2 separate regions of the Homo sapiens genome follow, and region 2 is linked to region 1. Evidence: fine-mapped expression QTL. A gene starts in region 1. The other region holds a variant in brackets. All regions are shown on one strand. Distances are from middle to middle.

Region 1 (11,477 bases):
GTTCTTCCTGGAAATGAGGATCATAACCCAGCTGGCTCCAGATTTCGGAGCGAGGAGGCACAAATTCTACAGGTGAGTGGCTGGGTGTGATAGTAATAGAGGCTACTCCTGTATGCACATAGTCCTACTGGAGACACAATACTATATATCCATTTTGGCCCAATGCATTTCAGCGCATATACCATATTCTGAAGAACTGCTCCCAACTTTGCAAGGCATTACATCTTAATCGCAATTTAGCCCAGTCTTCAACAGGCCATTCCAAAACCCTATCTGGCTAGCTGCTTCTGGATGATGAGTATGCACCATGAATTTTGTAGCTTCGAGTTCACTGTCACACCTCCTTGGCTATCGGTGGGTTCCTTAGTTTCAGGTATGTCAATGGATAAGGCACCCTGTAAGCTCTCAGATGGTGGTGCTGCTGGAGGCAAAGTAGTTGGGGAAGACAAGCTCATTTAGAGCATATATCAATTCTGGTAAGAACAAATTGATGCCCATTCCAAGGTAAAAGGGATCTGATGCACTCAACCTGGTGGTAGCTGGTATCTCTAAGACTCAGTGTTGGTCTCTAATGCTGGCAGGCTGGACACTCCACCATGGTGAGAGTTACATCAGCCTTGGTAAGAGGTAGACCATATTGGCCGGGCACGGTGGCTCACACCTGTAATGTCAGCACTTTGGGAGGCTGAGGTGGGTGGATCACAAGTTCAGGAGTTCGAGACCAGCCTGAGCAACATGGTGAAACACCGTCTCAACTAAAAATACAGAAATTACCTGGGTACGGTGGTGTGTGCCTGTAGTCCCAGCTACTCGGGAGGCTGAGGCAGGAGAATTGCTTGAACCTGGGAGGTGGAGGCTGCAGTGAGCTGAGATCACACCACTGCACTCCAGCCTGGGCAACAGGGCGAGACTCCGTCTCAAAAAAAAAAAAAAAAAAAAAAGAAAAATAAGAGGTAGCCCATATTGTTGGGACCACGCACAGCCTCTATCCCTGCTACCATGGTCTCTGTTCATAAGCCTATTGCATAAACAATAAGATGGTCCCTAACCAACAAGCCAAGCCATTCATCACTGCCTAGGAGTCAATGCATATCCCTACCTTAGGCTACCTCCTCCAAAATATGGCATGGGTGACCAAATGTACCATTGCTCACTGAGATAATTTTTCTTCACCAGTATGCTTCAGGGCAACGCGAGTGGGGCTGTAATGAAGAACAGTCTGTTTCTGGAAGATGCCAACATGCTGAACTGACCCAATCCCCAATCTGTGCAGAGGCCAAGGCTCTTCTGTCTCCATCAGTTAGTTGTAGGGAACTTTTATAAGGCCATAGGAGTAAGTTTATGGGAGAGGTGGCAGTAGAGCAGAGGTAACTGACCTGGGAGTTTGGAAACGTGGGTTTTGTTTTTTTGCCTTAGAAGGCATGACCTTGCTCCAGAATCTTAGGTATTTGTGCTGTGACTCTTTATGATGGGTTGAATTGTACCTCCACCTCATCCCCAATTAACAGGTTGAAGTTCTAGCCCCTAATACCTCAGAATGTGAAATTATTTGGCAATAGAGGCATTGCAGATGTAATTACTTCAAGATGAGGTCATAGTGGATTAGGGTGGGTCCCTCATCTAATGACTGGTATCCTTATAAAAAAGGGAAGTTTAGAGATAGTACACAGGGAGAATGCCAAATGAAGATGAGGGTAAAGACTGGGAAAATGCTTCTTACGATGCCAAGGAATGCAAAATATATCCAGCAAATCCCCAGAAACTAGGAGAGAGGCATGGACAGATTCCTTCTCACAGCCTCAATAGGAACCACACCTTAATTTCTGACTTCTAGCCTCCAGACTGTGAACCAACAGATTTCTGTTGTTTAAGCCACCCAGTTTGTGGTACTTTGTTATAGGAGCCCTAGCACACGAATGCACACTCTTATTGGGGTTTGCCAGCAACTCCATACAGCACCTGTATCCATCAAGGATATTTCTGGAACCACTGAATTTGCAAGTAAGCTTGCACTGTTGCTTGGATTTACTATAGAGTGCTCTCTTGCCCCAATAAAAAGTGGAAGCTGGCCAGGCATGGTGGCTCACGTCTGTAATCCCAGCACTTTGGGAGGCGGAGGTGGGTGGATTGCTTGAGGTCAGGAGTTCAAGATCAGCCTGGCTAACATGGTGAAACCCCTCCACTACTAAAATACAAAAATGCTGGGCATGGTGGCGGGCGCCTGTAATCCCAGCTACTAGGGAGGCTGAGGCAGGAGAATTGCTTGAATCCAGAAAGCAGAGGTTGCAGTGAGCCGAGATCACGGCACTGTACTCCAGCCTGGGCTACAGAGCAAGACTCCGTGTCAAGAAAAAAAAATAGTAATAAATAAAAAGTGGAAGCTTTTTAGGTCACCTAATACATGTGTTGGAACAGTTTTCTCAGGTGCAGAATATGCTACCTCCCAAATCCAAAGGGGCCCACCAGGACCTGTACCAATTTTTTTGGGATTAGAGGGTGCAAGGTGGAACAACTTTCTTTTACCTTTGGGTGATGTCCCCAAACCACTGGGCCCCACCAAAACTTCATCCATTTGATAAGTGCCCATATCTTCAGGTTTCTGTACTGCCTTAGTAAGAAGTCTTACTAGGATATTTATGACCCTTGTCACTTGCTGCTCACTGGGTACTACTAGCATTTGTCATCAATATATGGACCATCATGATGGTTGGGTAAAGTTCCTGCGGACTACACTGTGACAGAGAACAGGTCTCAGGATCCCACCCTCTCCCTGTATGAGCCACGACTTTGACTCAGGGGACCTGCCGAGTCTGCACAATTGGTCTCCTTTACATTACTGTCACTGTTACAAACAGATCCTCGGCCTAATTTTCAGCTTAGCTAGATGCAGAATTACCTTAGTAATTTATAAAAAATCAGCTATTGTATGTATCTAGATCTATTTCTGGACTTTTTTTTCTTTAAGAAATTCAACCTCATATTTCTGGACTTTCTGTTCTGCTCTGTTGATCTATTTGTCTCTATGCTGATACCATACCATCCTGATTACTGTACCTTTAGGAAAAAAATCTTAAAAAAATACAAGTATTCCAATTTTATTCTTTTTCAAAATTGTTTTGGCAATCCTAAATCCTTAGCATTTCTATATAAACTTTAGAATCAGTTTGTTAATTTGCACTAAAAAAAACAAAACAGGCTCGGTGCAGTGGCTCACGCCTGTAATCCCAGCACTTTGGGAGGCCAAGACGGGCGGATCACCCGAGGTCAGGAGTTTGAGACCAGCCTGGCCAACATGGTGAAACCCCATCTCTACTAAAAATACAAAAATTAGCTAGGTGTGGTGGTGCCCACCTGTAATCCCATCTACTCTGGAGGCTGAGGCAGGGAAAATGCTTGAACCTGGGAGCTGGAGGTTGCAGTGAGCTGAGATCGCGCCACTGCACTCCAGCCTGGGCGACAGAGCAAGACTCTGTCTCAACAACAACAAAAAGACAAAAACGAAAAAAGGTAACAATTTTTTGAGTTGTTTCCACCTCTGTCATCTGGCAAACTGTTAAAAGAAAATTTTGCTCAAAAGCAAAATAGCAGCTGCTGTTTCTTAACACTTTGTTATGTTTTGATGAGTACTGGTGGGAAGTGGCCTCTTTAAGTGGGTACCTTTTGTGGTCCTCTCACTGGAGCCAATTGCCTGAGTCAGCTAAAACTTGGACGCGATGTGCCTCACTGCCATAGCTCACTCACCTTTGCTGCTGAAATGGTTTCCCATCACATTGCTAATAGGTACAACCTGTGAAGGGTTCTAGGTGGGGAAATGGCAACTCAGGAAGAACTCCAAACCTTTAGCTCTCCTAGGATATTAAAATGGCCGTTATGAAGAGGAAGAAGTACTGTGTCATCTATTGTCCTGGGGACCTGTCAACAGGAACAATAGATAGACATCACCAGGGGTGTATTTCTGTTCAACACAAGGAAAAGTTTCTAATTGGAGCTGTCCAGCATGAAATGGACTAAGCAGTGCATTTTCTTTCTCCGATCCTGACTCCACTGTGACGGGCACTGCAGACTAGAGAGATTGTGTCCTAGTATGAATTTAGGTTGGATAAATGATACTTAGGGATAAAGAGAGGAAAGGAATATCAGAATCTCCAAGAAGCTGATACATTTTGAAAAAATATATAAAATGCCACACTTCAGGTTTTCTTGTGTTTAATTTGAAACGTCCAGTAACATTAAAGAACAGCATTTGATTTGCTTAAACAAAGTAGTAACAGCTGAAGTTCCTTCCAAATCACTTTTCTGATTCTCTAAGAGGCTTGCCTATGCCTTGCAGATCTAGCTTCACCTACAAGACATATTCTGTAAGGATCCAGGTTCAGCAAGGTGTCAGAATGTCCTAAGGGTTTCTGTCCCGGCGCTCTGCCTGTCCCGCTTGTGCACAATGCTTTTGCCTATCCCTGTTTCTGCATAGATTTTAGTCTTCCCACCAGGGACGCAACTGTCAGTTTCCTCCGTCTCTCTCGGTTCTATTCCAATCTGCTCATCTCCCCTCCCGTCCCCGCTTTCCCCAAGGACCTACTGAGATTTCGATCCCACAACTTAGTGGGTCCCATCTCACCCAGGCCCCGCAATCCTCGCCTTCTACTTGTCAGCGTTGTACTACACTCTGAGCAGGCACCCCTGTGCTACTCACGGAAGCGGGACCATTAGGTCGGCCATTCCTCCTCACCCCACGACACGCACCCACTGGGTCGGGCCGCCTCCTTGCAGGGAGTCTCAAGGATGGGCTGGCGTCAGGGAGGGGCCCAGGGGGCGCTTTCCCAACACTGGTCGCAGTCATTGTTGGTATAACGGCTAGAGACGCCCAGTGAGTTAGCATGGAGGGCAGTGGGACCGGAAAAAGACGTGGAAAAGCTGCGAAAACGAGCCTTCGAATCATGGACGCGCGGGCCCAGCTCCTCCTCCGAGTTCCTCATCCGGGGCCGTCACTCACATCCGGGGCCCTCACTCACATCCGGGACCCTCATCCGGGGCTCTCACCCACATCCGGGACCCTCATGCCTGGGCGGAGGAGGGGGGGCCCTCATTCGGGACCCTGCACTCCGTCGCCGGAAGTGCCACCGAGAAGCGCCGGCCTCGGGGCTGTCTACAGCGGCCCGGGAGAGGCTGTGGTGGCCCCGAGCGCGAGTGTGTAGGTGACAGGACAGCGGCCAGGCCCGCCCCTCCCCTCGGTGAGTACCCGGAAGCCGTTTTGGGGTCGCAGCGGGGTGGCAGCTTGTTTTGCCTTCACGGGAGTAGAAGGAGGCGGCGTCCGGCCGCGGCCGACGGTAGTTCGCTTCCCCGAGAGTGCGCGGAGGCCCGGGTGCGAGGAGGGCCTGTTTCTCTTCAGCCCTGGTTCATTCACCTCGCGGACCGAGGGCCCCGCCGTCAGGAGCCGGCGACCGTGCCCTGGTGCGAGCTGGTCTGTATGTCCTCACTGGTCCTTTTGGGACTTTGCCTTGGCCTAAAAGGGAAGTGGGAGGAGGGCAGCGCCGGGCAAGGCCTTCTGAGGACCGAGCTGGGAGCCGGGCAGGGGCCCAGGGCGAGGGTGGTGGGAGGGGGACGGCACCCTCATGCGTCCTTGGGCCTGAAGGACGCCGCTCAAACCTGTTCGAACCGCAGCTCTTACCTGCGTTGCTCTCAGGATTCCGGGAAAAGGCCGGTCTAGCTGGTCTGAGTTAGCGAAGGGCCTGACCCCAAAAGTGGAGTTTTATTCGCCAAGCCCGTGTAGTAAATCGGAGTGGGCTGACGGTGTTACCAAGACATTTCCTAGGGGGCCTGCTGTTTTATTTATTTAAATGAGTTTATTTACGTAAACGCGGGCCTGTCACGGTGGTTCACGCCGTAATCCCCGCACTTTGGGAGGCCGAAGTGGGAGGATCGCTTGAGGCCAGGCGTTCGAGTCCAGCCTGGGCAACATAGCGAGACTCCCATCTCTGCTAAAACAAAATTAAAATAAAATGAGCAATCATAACTAGCATTTTTCTCTGGGCACCAACTTGAGCCTCCAAAGACGATTGTAAATTTTAAATATTTTGTTTTGTTTATTTGAGGTGGGCTGTCACGCTGTCATACAGGCTGGAATGCAGTGGCGCAGTCATAGCTCACTGCAGCCTCTACCTCCCAAGCTCAAGCGATTCTCCTGCCTTGGCCTTTGGAGTAGCTGGAACTACAGGCCTGGGCCACCTAATTTTTTTTTTTTTTTTTTTTTTTGTAGGGACGGGGTTTCACCATGTTGTCCAGGACGGTCTGGAACTCCTGAGCTTAAGGGATCCACCCGTCTGTGCCTCCCAAACTGTTGGGATTACAGGCTTGAGCCACCGCACGTGGCCAATTTTAAATATTTTAAAGTTTCCACAGAAAGCTTTACACTATTAAATTGTACCGTGTTAATTTTTTTAATGCCACAAATTCCAAATTAGAGACTCTTCTATGATTTGGTTCTTAAGTATTTAAAGCTGAAGCATATCCATATTTCTTTTTCTTTTTTTTCTTTTTTTTTTTTTTGGGACGGAGTCTCACTGTGTTGCCCAGGTTGGAGTGCAGTGGTGCAATCTTGGCTCACTGCCACGTATGCCTTCTGTATTCAAGCAATTCTCCTGCCTCAGCCTCCCGAATAGCTGGGATTACAGACCCGCACCACCACGCTGGCTAATTTTTGTATTTTTAGTAGAGAAGAAGTTGCACCATGTTGATCAGGCTGGTCTTGAACTCCTGACCTCAAGTGATCTTCCCGCCTCAGCCTCCCAAAGTGCTGGGATTACAGGCCACTGCGCCTGGCCCCATTTTTCTGTTACTTATTTAGGGTGGTTAATCATTATCAACTAATTTTTATTGAATATCCATAGTGTGTAAGATCCTTTGCAAAGTCCTGACGATATAAAATGATGAAATGCTTTAACTTATTACAGTAATTTCTCTTAATCTTACCTTGCAGTGATGGTCATTGTCCTCCAGAGCAGTGATGGAGGAAATACCAGCCCAGGAAGCAGCAGGGTCACCAAGGGTCCAGTTTCAGTCTTTGGAGACCCAGTCTGAGTGTCTGTCCCCAGAGCCTCAGTTTGTGCAGGACACCGACATGGAACAGGGACTCACTGGGGGTAAGGCAGAGAAAGCACTTCCGTCTGGGAGAGTGGGAGTGCGGAGGGGCTCCCGAGGGGGCTCCTGGGCCTGGTTTGAGAGAGGCCAAGAACTGGAATAAGAACATGGTCCCTAGAGGGAGGAATGAAAGAGGGGGCAGATGTGACTCAGTTCAGTCCTAGTCTGAGCCCCTTTATTAAGGATAGCTCATCTTTCTCAAATAAGCAGAGTGATGGCTGCTTACTCGCTGTGGTGGTTTTTCCTTCAGGCAACCTTCACTTCATCCCAGTTCTCACATCCAGAATAATTTCTAAGATATGCTGCTTTTGCCACATCTCACAGTCCTTTCCTGGCTCTCACTTCCTCTTAGGTTCAGGACCTTTCTTTCCCCTGTTCCCTTCACTTAGTTTTTCTTTGCTTTGTCACCTGCCATCCATTCTGTTGTAACTGCAGTGTTTTGTGACTAGACTAAATTTGGTCAAGGAAGCAACCATTTAATTCCTTGGTTGAACACAATGCCTGTATGAATGTATATATACTGTATTTTGACTACGCAGTCACACTTTGCTGTATCGTATAGGTAGGTTGGTCTTTTTCTTCCTTTGTTTTATAAGAGCTGTGTCTTAGATTGCCTGTGGTTAACTCTAGTGCCTGAAATAACTTGTGTGTCACCCACACAGATCAAGTGCCACAATGTGTAGAGTGCTGTGGGGGATTGTGGGACTGTGGAAAAGATTTCGAGGAAACAGATGACCCTTTCTTGTTCTTGGGGGCCTTACACACTGGTTGAGACAGCACCCATTCACAAGAGAAACGCTGATCAAGTGTCTAGAACAGTGCCTGGAAAGGGTCAGAAGTCTGCTAAATAACCCTAGCCCAGGACAAGTCCCCACAAGTCTTTATGCTTTGCTTTGCCCATCTGCAAAACAGGTATAGTCTTACTCTTCTGTAAGAGGACTGTCATGTGATGAAGATAAAGTGAAATACAAGCTTTCCTAAGAAAATCCTGTATCACAGGTCAAAACACGCATAAGGCATGCAAGTACTGAGACGAAGCAGAGTAGACACACCCAATACCTGAAAAATGTTCATTGGTTTTACTAGAGTATTGAGGAGGGTCCTGCTGACACCCCTTGGGCTGGAGAGGCCTCCTCTGAAAGGGAGCCCTGGGAAAGGGCTGCTCTCACTCTTCACTCCTTTCTCCTCCCTCAGCTCCACCTGTTCCTCAGGTGCCTGCTCTTCCCCGTGAGGGAAGCCCAGGAGACCAGGCAGCTGCGCTCTTGACAGCCAGGTACCAGGTGAGCTGAGGAACCCTCTGCTTTTCCTCAGGGACTATTGCTACTGATGGAGTGTGGCCTCTCTCTCATCCCATCTGTAGACCTTGCCTGGAATTTTTTTCAATAGCAGACTCCAGTTTGGGAATTGATCCTCTTCGGAGACCTGGACTTCACATAAACCAACTTCCCATCTCCCCAGTGCCATGAGCAAACTCTGTTTTCTCTTTGTCCATGGTTGTGTGATGGGTGCTTATTAGATGTTTAAGGGTTATGGGCTTTATTCCGTAGGTTCTAATCTGTTCTCCCTCCTCCTCAACGTAAGTACACAGTGGATACCCTCTCTATGATCTTCATTCTCTGGCCATGGTGCTACAGTGTTCTCATTCCTCAGAGCAGCCAGGATGTGTTATTTCAGGAGTTTGTGACATTCGAGGATGTGGCTGTGCACCTTACTCGAGAGGAATGGGGATACCTGGACCCTGTTCAGAGGGACCTCTACAGAGAAGTGATGTTAGAGAATTATGGGAACGTGGTCTCACTGGGTAAGGACTTCCTTATTATTCGGTTTATCTATTTGAATTTCTTTACTTTCTTGTTTCTTCCTAAGTATAAGGTCTCTGAGAAGGTCTGTAGAGTGTGGCTTAGATTCCAGGACTTAGAACCTCTGAATCCTTATCTTTCACATCGTCTTCTCCGGGAGGGGTAATTAACGTTTGTTTGGGGGTGCCAAGAAGAGACATTCTCCTCCTTATCCCCAGTTCATGTTTATGGCCATTGTGGGGCATCTTTTCCCTTTTAGCAAAGGGAAACTTTCTTGTGCTTTGCTTGATTTCTCACCGTTCTTTTCTTTTCCATTTTTGTAGGAGAGACCCCAGGGTGGCCTCCCAACCTCCAACCAGACACTTTCCTCTTTGTTATCTCAGTGTCCCTGTATTAGAGAATTGAAGAATTTCCCATTTTTCTAGGAAAAAGAAATGCCGTTTATTTAAAAAGACAGGCTAAATTCCTTCTTGTTGAGTAGTCCCTCACCCCTTAAGATCCCCAGATGTATCTCCAAGCAGGCAGAACTTGAGATGTCATTTGAAGGCATGACTCACTGTGAGTACATTTCAGTGAGTCACCCAGAATGGTAATCCCACGTAACCACACCCAGGGCAGCAGAAATCTCAGATGTTTACCCCATGCTGAGGTGGGGTCAATGCTTAACTCATGTCTCTCCCTTGTCATTTTGAAAGGTACAGTGGGAAGCTGGGATTAGCCAAGCTGTAGTGCTGCTGGGAAGCATCAGTGGGGTTTGTCGGCAGCTCCCTTGGTGTGAGCATTGTTCCTTTTTCTTTAGTTTATTTTTTATATTATATTATATTTTTTATTTTATTTTATTTTTAGATGGAGTTTCACTCTTGTTGCCCAGGCTGGAGTGCAGTGGTGCAATCTCAACTCACTACAACCTCTGCCTTCCAGGTTCAAGCGATTCTCCTGCCTCAGCCTCCCAAGTAGCTGGGATTACAGGCATGGGCCACCACGCCCGCCTAATTTTGTATTTTTAGTAGAGACGGGGTTTCACCATGCTGGTCAGGCTGATCTCGAACTCTTGACCTCAAGTGATCCACCTTCCTTGGCCTCCCAAAGTGCTGGAATTACAGGCATGAGCCACCGCACCCAGCCTCCTTTTTCTTTAGTTTCTTGCTTGCTTCTGCACTCTTCTTTTTGTGTGTGTAAATACTGAATCATGCATTTTCTTTTCTTTTTTTTTTTTCCGTTGGCTTTGTCTATGCTGGTGGCATCCAGGGCATTGCTTTGTCTCCCTGATTATGCTCAGGATTCAAGGTCTTCTTATTTGTGGGGAGGCAGGCTGCCCACTGGGACGGTTTTTAGTGTGTTTTCCATTCCTGGCTCTTTAATCTTTGTAGGCATACTTCTCCGCCTTCCCACCACCCGGATTCATAGTGTGAATTCCTGCCCGGCCCTGAGTCATACCCAGGCAAGTGCTTTCTCTGGAGAAACACTTGCCGTCCTTACAGCAGGAATCTCCAAGAGATGGCCCAAGTATCGGCTTCCCATCGATATTGCTCGTCCCTGCTCGGAAACTCCTTTTCCACGATTGTGAGATATTAAAATTGACTGATGGAATAGAAGCTCCCCAGGATGCCACCACTGTGTAAAATCGCAGCTCCTCAAATTACCTCTGTTTAATTTCAAATGTTAGGGTCCAAGGAAGCCCTCTGTTGCAACCAGATATGTTTTGAACCCAGTTCATTCAGAAACCATGGTTGGTGGTCATCATCTACTTGTATTGTGAAAAACCAGAAATTCCAAATTCAGCTCTTCAGTTATGGTCTTTTCATATTATTTTAGAATGTGAAACTTATGCTGTGTGCCCCTCCTTTTATGTGGCGAACACAACCTGCCCCGTATGGTGCCTAACTCTCCTGTGAACCCTGGGCTTCCCTCATGTTTAACATTCTGGTTTCCTCCTTCCTTGAAGTCCCTGTGGCCCTCTTCAAGGTCCTACCTTCCTACCCTTTATTCTTTGTGGTTCTGTACAGATTGATGCAATTATATTGCCTTTCCTGATTAAGTGTTCCTTACTCTGTCCTTGATGGAGGGGAGAAGGGAGGGCAAAGAAGTTAAATTTATTTCAGGGCATCAAATTGAATATCTACTTAATAACTTTGTAAACTGTAAAGTGACATACATATAATTGTAAAGTACTGTTAATTTTATCTAATAATTACAGAGTTTCCAACAGTTAACCTGTCTACTTTTTGGAGTAAAGAAACTTTGTAGCAGTTTAATGCAGTCTAATAGCATAGTATGCTATAGACTGAACTTTATCCCATTTCCTCTCTTATCTCTGCACTGCACACTCGACATGCAGTCGACATGCATACACACTTTTACACATACAAGAGACACGCACAGTGCAAGAAAGCCTTCTACTCATCTTGCTTTTGTGATCAAGTTAGCAGCATCTCCTTAGCAGTTATTTTTACAATCCTTGGGAAATCATTTTCATATTTTTGGGTTCAGCAGACTTCATCTGAAAATTAACCCATTTATGCCTAGTGTTCCATTATTGGAACA
Region 2 (8,000 bases), 830 kb after region 1:
AAGTGTTGGGATTACAGGCATGAGCCACTGTGCCTGGCCCCAAGGTATACTAGTTCTTAAATCAATTTTTAAAAATATCACCCAGGCCTGGCTCAGAGGTTCATGCTTGTAGTCCCAGCTAATCAGGAGGTTGAGGTGGGAGGATCACTTGAGCCCAGGAGGTGGAGGCTGCAGTGAGGTACGATTGCGCACCCCAGCTTGGGCAACAGAGCAAGACGGTGTCCAAAAAACCCAAAAGACACCCATTTCACAGATATTTTAACATTTAACAACATATAATTGAGCATATACCCACTCGTGACTGCAGCTGGCTTTTGTTGTCATTAGGTTTGCTAGTCTTGTCTATCTTCTTCTTGTTGCTCCTTTAAATAACCAGTTTCTGCATTTATTTTGCCTGTGGCTATCTGTTCCCTAATTTATTCCTACGTAACTTTTCATTACTTTCTTCCTCTGAGTTTCTTTACAGCTGGCTCCTCCTGTTTGGGGTTTTTTCTTTGGAAACTGAATATTTTATTTGTTTTAAAAATTTCTTCCCATTTTAAGTAATAAATCCATTTCATACAATGAATTTAGCTTAGAGTGTTGCTTTAGTCATACTCCAGGGTTCTTTTTTAAAATATGTATTACTCTAGTTTTTATTTTCTAAACAGTATGTTATTATACATGTTTTCCTTTAAGTAATTAAAACATTTTAAAATTCCCAATCAAGACATAGCATTTACACTTTTATTACTTTCTCTTAAGAGTGGATGAAGATTTTAGTTCATACTAACTTGAAGACATTAAGGAGCCTGATTTTTTTGTCCTGTGGCTGAGTACTATGTCAATTTTTTAAGGGTGCGTGAAACATCTATAAAGAAGGTGTAACTTGTTTGTAGGATGTGAAGGTCAATATATATTAATGTGACCTTAAAAACATATTTTCAATATACAGTAGGTTTTTTACAGATGTGTTCTCACTTATTAAGACAATCCTGGCTTGGCACAGTGGCTCACACCTATAATCCCAACACTTTAGGAAGCTGAGGCGGGCAGATCACCTGAAGTCAGGAGTTGGAGACCAGCCTGGCCAACATGGTGAAACCCCGTTTCTACTAAAAAAAGAAAAAAAAAATACAAAAATTAGCTGGGCATGGTGGCATGTGCCTGTGATCCTAGCTACTCGGGAGGCTGAGGTAGGAGAATCACTTGAACTTGGGAGGCGGAGGTTGCAGTGAGCCGAGGCTGCACCACTGCACTCCATCCAGCCTGGGTGACAGAGCGAGCCTCCGTCTCAAAAAAAAAAAAAAAAAAAAAAAAAAAAAGACAATCCTGTAAAAACACACTGTATGATTCAGCTAATATGAAGTATTTAGTCAAACTCATGGAGACAGAAAGTAGAGGGGTAGAAGGGTGGGGACACAGGAATGAGGAGTTGTTTAACACGTGAAATGTTTCCATTGAGGTGGATTGTTAAGCCAATGACAGAATTTAAACCACAGACTTACTTTGATAGTACTCTTAATGGTATAATTTCTTCTCCCATTTTATGTCTCTCTTTATGTTTTTTCTTATGTTTCCTTTTTGTTTTCAAGAGAGAGCTATCTTTTAGATCTCCAGTATCCTTTTCCTCTTCAGTAGAGATTTCTATATCTTGAAATAAATAAAAAAGCACTCCGTTAAGACGTGGGGCTGTGAAATGGGTGAAATCCCAAAGACTCTTTCAATTCATCTGTGATTAACATTTTTGGGAAGTAACTCCTATTATAAATTAAAAGTAATATTAGAGTTTTTCACAATCAGAATGTCAATAAATTTTTAACTTAAAAAAAATGTTTCCATTGAGGAAGATGCAAGGGTTCTGGAGTTGGATGGTGTGATGGTTGCACAGCACTGTGAATGTGCTTGATGCCACTGAACGGTGCATGTAGAAATGGTTAAAATGACATATTTTATGTTACCTGTATTGGCAACAATAGACTTTTTTTGATCCTGTGATTTAGTTATCCCTATTTGTGAGTGAGGAGATGAGGTTCTGAGGTCACCCTGCTGATAACTGGTATAGAATCGGATTTAAACTGAGTTGCCTGTTAAGCTGAATTTGAGGAGGAAGAAATAAAATTAAAGGAAGGAAGAAATGGAAGGAAGGAAGAAAGGAATGAAGGAAAGAAGGAAGGAGGGAGGGAGGGAGAGAGGAAGGAAAGGAAAGGAAAGGAAAGGAAAAGAAGGAAAGGAAAAATAATATAAAATGAACTGAGTCGTCTGCATTGAAAGCTGTTAACATTTCACCCTGTTCCCCGCTCCCTGTGTGGGCTTCAGAGAGGAGCTCCCTCACCACTAATGTCCCCCAACCTAGAAAGCAGCACACCACGCCTTTCACCCAGACACCCTGTGCCCCCAGGGGAGGGTCTGCTCATTCCTCATCTCTCCCCAGCTGTCACGACCACCACCCAGAGGCCCAGCAGCATGACTACCACCTGGAGGCTCAGTAGCACAACCACCACAACCGGCCTCAGGGTCACACAGGGCAAACGACGCTCAGACTCTTGGCACATAAGTCTGGAGACTGCTGTGGGGGTGGCAGTGGCTGTCACTGTGCTCGGAATCATGATTTTGGGACTGATCTGCCTCCTCAGGTGGAGGAGAAGGAAAGGTAAGTGCCCAGGACCCGCCCTCTCCCCAAGCCTCCCATCTGGGGGTTTCTCAAAGCCCACCTGCAGCTATGGGGCTCCTGAAATATGCAGACCCTGCTGGCTCCCCTCAAGCCCACCGAGGCCGACTTCGTGGCCTATGCTGAGGTGTCTGCATTTGTGAGGCTCCTGCAGTGGGGCGGGGCAGGGTCACATGTGAGAGCCCACAGCCCTTTTCACACAGCCGATCCCCCCCTAGTTCTTCTCTCTCAGTCATCACTCATCTACCTCCCCTGAAGGTTCCTGGGGAGGAGAGGGGAGGGTCTGCCCTGGGAAAAGGAGAGAGAGAGCAGAAGGGACCAGAAGTAAGCTGAGCTCAGCAGGCACTGGCCAACTGCCCACCTGCCACGGCCTGGCTTGAAACTGCAGAAGCAAAGTAGATAAAGCATAAACCATAGACTCTGCTCTCAGGGAACTAGGGGTGTGGGGTTTTCAGTTGCCTCAAGGACTAATTGCTTCATTGAGAAAGAACTATGGTAGCACTTAATAAGGGTGGGAAGAAGGAGAGGTAATCAGAGAGGACTTCCCAGAGGTGATATATGCAAAAGTCTCAAAGAAGAAAAAGAATTAGCCTGGCAAGTGGTGAGGGTGGTGTAGAGGTCACTCACTTTCCTTGTGGGTGGAGGAAACCATTCCAGGAGCTGCAGGAAGCTCAGTGCTGGTGGAGGAGGCAGGAAAGGAGAGGACCTTGGAAATCACACCCAAGAGCCTCTGATCCCAGAGGCAGCATGAAGCAGTAAAGGGTGACCTCAGCTACCGTGAGAGACCTCAGTCTATGGAGGAGTGGCCAGAGGTGGGCCAGGCTGGGTCAGTGCAGTGCAGGGGTGAGGTGGAAAGAGGAAAAGGGCCAGATCCTGGAAAAGATTAAGTAATAAAACCAAAGAGGTGAGGTGCGTTGAGGTGGCTCACGCCTGTAATCCCAGCACTCTGGGAGGCTGAGGCAAGAGGATTTCTTGAGCCCAGGAGTTTGATACCAACCTGGGCAACACAGGGAGACCCTGTCTCTACAAAATAATAATAACAATAATAATAATAATAATAATTATTAT[T/A]ATTATTATTATTATTAGCTGGGCATGGTAGCCTGTGCCTGTGGTACCAGCTACTGGGAGGCTGAGATGTGAGGATTGCTTGAGCCCAGGAGTTTAAGGTTACAATGAGCTGTGATTTCACCACTGCACTCCAGCCTGGGAGACGGAGCAAACTATCTCCAACTAAATATAAAAATAATTTAAAAAAAATTTTTTATAAATGACACTTGGTTGGTTGGGCAGGGTGGCTCATGCCTGTAATCTCAACACTTTGGGAGGCCAAGGCAGGAGAATCTCTTGAGCCAAGGAGTTCAAGACCAGCCTGGGCAACTTTGCAAAACCCCGTATCTACAGAAAATACAAAAATTAGCTGGGTGTGGTGGCGTGCGCCTGTGGTCCCAGCTACTCCAGAGGCTGAAGTGAGAAGACTGCTTGAGCCTGGGAGGTCGAGGCTGCAGTGAGCCATGATTGTGCCACTACACTGCAGCCTGGCTGACAGAGCAAAACCTTATCTCAATAAATAAATAAATAAGTTGATTGTTAGATTGATGTAGGGGCGAGGGAGCAGGAATAAGCCCCTGTTTCCACTTGAGTGGATGAGGCTGTAATGAAATCACCAAGTACAATGGGGAAGAGAGGAGATCATGCTTGGAGGGGAACGATGCCTCATTTAATTTGGGATCTGTTACACTGGAGATCCATGTGTGGCATCTCAGCAGAGTTGTCCATTGGAAACTCAGAGTACACATTTACAGTTCAAAAGAGAGGACAAGGCCTGAGGCATTAATGAGTTCCACCCCAACATCCTCCAAACCTGATCTGAAGTTACCATCAAGAATGTTTGCAATGGGCTAGGCATGATGGCTCCCGCTCACGCCTGTAATCCCAGCACTTTGGGAGGCCAGGCTGGGCAGATCAGTTGAGCCCAGGAGTGTGAGACCAACCTGGCCAATGTGGTGAAACCCTGTCTCTACTAAAAATACAAAACTTAGCCAAGTGTGGTGGTACGCACCTGTAGTTCCAACTACTGGAGAGGCTGAGGTGGAAGAATTGCTTGAGCTTGGGAGGCAGAGGTTGCAATGAACTGAGAGAGTACCACTGCACTCCAGCCTGGGTGACAGAGTGCAAGGAGATTTGCCCTATCAGCTATGAAAGCACAGAGGGGAGGAGCATGGGGTTGGGGCTGCCTGCAGTCAGATCCTGGCCTCACACCTTCGCCAGGGAAACAGCCTTGTTGGTACAAAGGCTGTGCACCTCACCTTCCTCATGGGCAAAGGGAGTGAAGATAGTACCTACGTGGGGTTGTCCTGATGATTAAATGTACTGTGTTTAGATCTTGCAGAGGGTGTGCCACAGGAGCATCAGCAGTTAGAATGACTAAACAGTGGGCATTAAACCAGGGAACACTGGCTCTCATGGGAGCACCATCGTATGAATACATTTAAAAGACAAAACAGTACAATATTGGCATATTCATACACAGATAAAGCAATGGAAGAAAAGAGGAAAACCTAGGTATAACAGAATGAAAAGAGACCCAAATATATGTGGGAATTTAGTTGGTTAAAATGTTTCTAATCAATGAGGAAAGATGAGTAATTCCATGAATGGTGCTGGAACTATTCAGTAGCCATCTGAGAAAAAATAACATTATCTCCTTACCTCATAATTTGTACCAAAATAAATTCCACAGGGATCAAAGATTTAAATGAGAAAAAAAATAACCCTAGTACCAGAAGAAAATGTGAGATTATTTCATAAGCAGTAGAGACAGTCTTCCTCAGTATGACCAAGCCCCAAAGCCATGGATTAAAATATTAAAATCTGGCCAGGTGCAGTGGCTCATGCCTGTAATCCTACCACTTTGGGAGGCCGAGGTGGGCAAATCACTTGAGGTCAGGAGTTCAAGACCAGCCTGGTCAACATGGTGAAACCCCGTCTCTACTAGAAATATAAAAATTAGCTGTGCATGGTGATGCGCCCCTGTAATCCCAGCTACTTGGGGGGCTGAGGCATGAGAATCGCTTGAACCTAGGAAGTGAAGGCTGCAGTGAGCTGAGATCACACCACTGCACTCCAGCCTGGGTGATAGAGCGAGACTCTGTCTCAAACAAAAAAAAAAAAATTAAAATCAACCACTTATGATTTTTTTTTTAATTCTGCAGAACAAAAACCACAGCACTTTTCTCCTGAGAATGAATAAGAGGGTCAGGGAATTGAAGAGAAAGTTTGACATAGTCACTGAGGAAATGGGAAGTGGAGTTTGAGGATTCAGCTCAGATACGAAACTGTAAATCTATGATAGCAGTGTTGTGCATGGCTGCATTTTTCCCCAGCAGTAGTCAACCATTCAGATTTTGAGACCTTAGTGATTTGTGTTGGTCAGGAATTGTTGTCAGTTGCTACCACCAGGGACCAGAAGTAAAAGTAGCTTAAACAAGACAGAGTTGGGTTATTTTTTTCCTCTTGTAAACAGATCTGGAAGCAGACAGCACATCACTGTTCTTAGACACTCAGGTTCCTACCTTTCTGATTCACCAGCCCTGATGCTGGCTTCTGTCCCAAAGGTTGCCTCATAGCCCAAGACGGCTGCAAGGATTCCAGCCACTATTTCTGGGTTCCTGGCAAAAAATAGGAGGAAGGAAGAAAGGAAAAAAAAAATACTATGCCTCAACTCTCTGTTCCCTTTTAAAGAGTCTTTCTGAAAGACCTAACAACAACTTCTTCACGTGTGAGAGCCCCGGCCCTCTCCACACAGCCGATCCCCGCCCCTCCGACCCAGTTTATATCTTATTGGCTAGAATTTGGTCACATATCCCACAGCTATCTGTAGGGGGAACCCTCCCACTCCAAATACAATCAATTTTCTGTAACTAAGAATAATTGAATAGATATTGGGTAATCAAATACCATTTCTGCCATAAGACACCCCCAGGATTAGAGACTTGCCAGCTAAGTGTGGCAGAAAGACAGGAGATCACAGGTCAAGGAGCTAGTGAGAAGGCAGGAATGAAGAGCAGAGGGGTCAGCAGGGAGTCTGAATAATCTGTAGAAAAGTAGATTATCACGGGATAAGAGTTCAATGAAGTCTAAGAGCAGGTACAGTGGCATAATGACAAAAGACAGCTGGAATGCTTCCAAGCTTATTCTGTGAGGTCAGCATTACCATGATACCAAAGCCAAACAAAGACACTACAAGAAAAACAAAAACAGAAACAAAACAAACTACAGACCAATAACTCTGATAAATATTGATGTAAACATCAACAAAATACCAGCAAACCAAATTCAACAGCACGGCAAAAGAATTATACACCATGGGCCAGGCACAAGAATCACTCAAACCTGGGAGGCGGAGGTTGCAGTGAGCCGAGATTGTGCTACTGCACTCCAGCCTGGGTGACAGAGTGAGATTCTATCTCAAAAAAAAAAAAAAAAAAAAAAAAGGAGCTGAATTGAAAAAAAATAGATTAATATACCAACGGAATAGAATACAGAGTCTAGAAATAAACCCTTGCGCATATGGTCAAAAGACTTGACAAGGGTGCCATGAGCACTTAATGGGCAAAGGACAATCTCTTCAACAAATGGCATTGGGAAAACTGAATATCCAAACCAAAGAATGTAGTTGGATCCTTATCTTATACCATATACAAAATTTAACTCCAAATGGATTAAAGACCTAAATGTAAGACCCCAAACCATAGGGAAAAAGCCTCATGACACTGGGTTTGGCAATAATTTCTTGCCTGTGATACCAAAAGCACAAGCCACAAAAGAAAAAATAGACAAATAGGACAACATTAAACTTAAACATGTTTTTTCATTACAGGACACAATCAATAGAATCAAAAGGCAACCTATAGAATGGGGAAAATATTTGTAAATTATATATCTGATAAGGAGTGAAAATCTGAAATATATAAAAATTCCTATAATTCAACAACAAAAAAATCAACCCAATTTAAAAGTGGGCAGTGGATTTTAACAGACATTTCTCCAGAGATGATATATGCTATGGTCTGAAATGTGTCTCCTCAAATCATGTATTGGAAACTTAGTCCCCAGTGTGACAACTGGGAGGTAGTGTGTTTTGGGAGGTGCTTAGGTCATGACGGCTCTGCCAAACGGATTAATGCCATTATAAAAAGGGATTTCAGGAGTGGGTTCACTGTCTTCTAATCTTCTGCCATGTGAGGACACAGTAATCCTCCCCTCTGAAAGACACAGCAAAAAGCAAGATGCTGGCACCTTGATCTTGGATTTCCCAGCCTCCAGAACTGTGAGAAATAATTTTTGCTTT

Evidence for each region.
Region 2: its variant is fine-mapped to the expression of ZNF655 in whole blood (INTERVAL, PIP above 0.99).

The regions. Positions count from the first base shown.
Region 1 is chr7:99,553,560-99,565,036 of GRCh38, forward strand. ZNF655 (zinc finger protein 655) reads left to right here and starts at 5,083. Exons shown (of 3, transcript NM_138494.3): 1 at 5,083-5,228; 2 at 6,974-7,136. The coding sequence starts at 7,001. LOC105375422 (a long non-coding RNA gene) reads left to right here. Exons shown (of 3, transcript XR_927801.4): 2 at 1-72; 3 at 1,177-2,398. It also overlaps a transcript of FAM200A not described here. RefSeq lists enhancers at 4,728-4,857, 4,888-5,157.
Region 2 is chr7:100,387,475-100,395,474 of GRCh38, forward strand. PILRA (paired immunoglobin like type 2 receptor alpha) reads left to right here. Exons shown (of 7, transcript NM_013439.3): 3 at 2,414-2,632. Among named protein-coding and RNA genes, the nearest start is that of PILRA, 18 kb to the left of the region's middle. The variant T/A (reference allele first, on the strand shown) is at 3,719.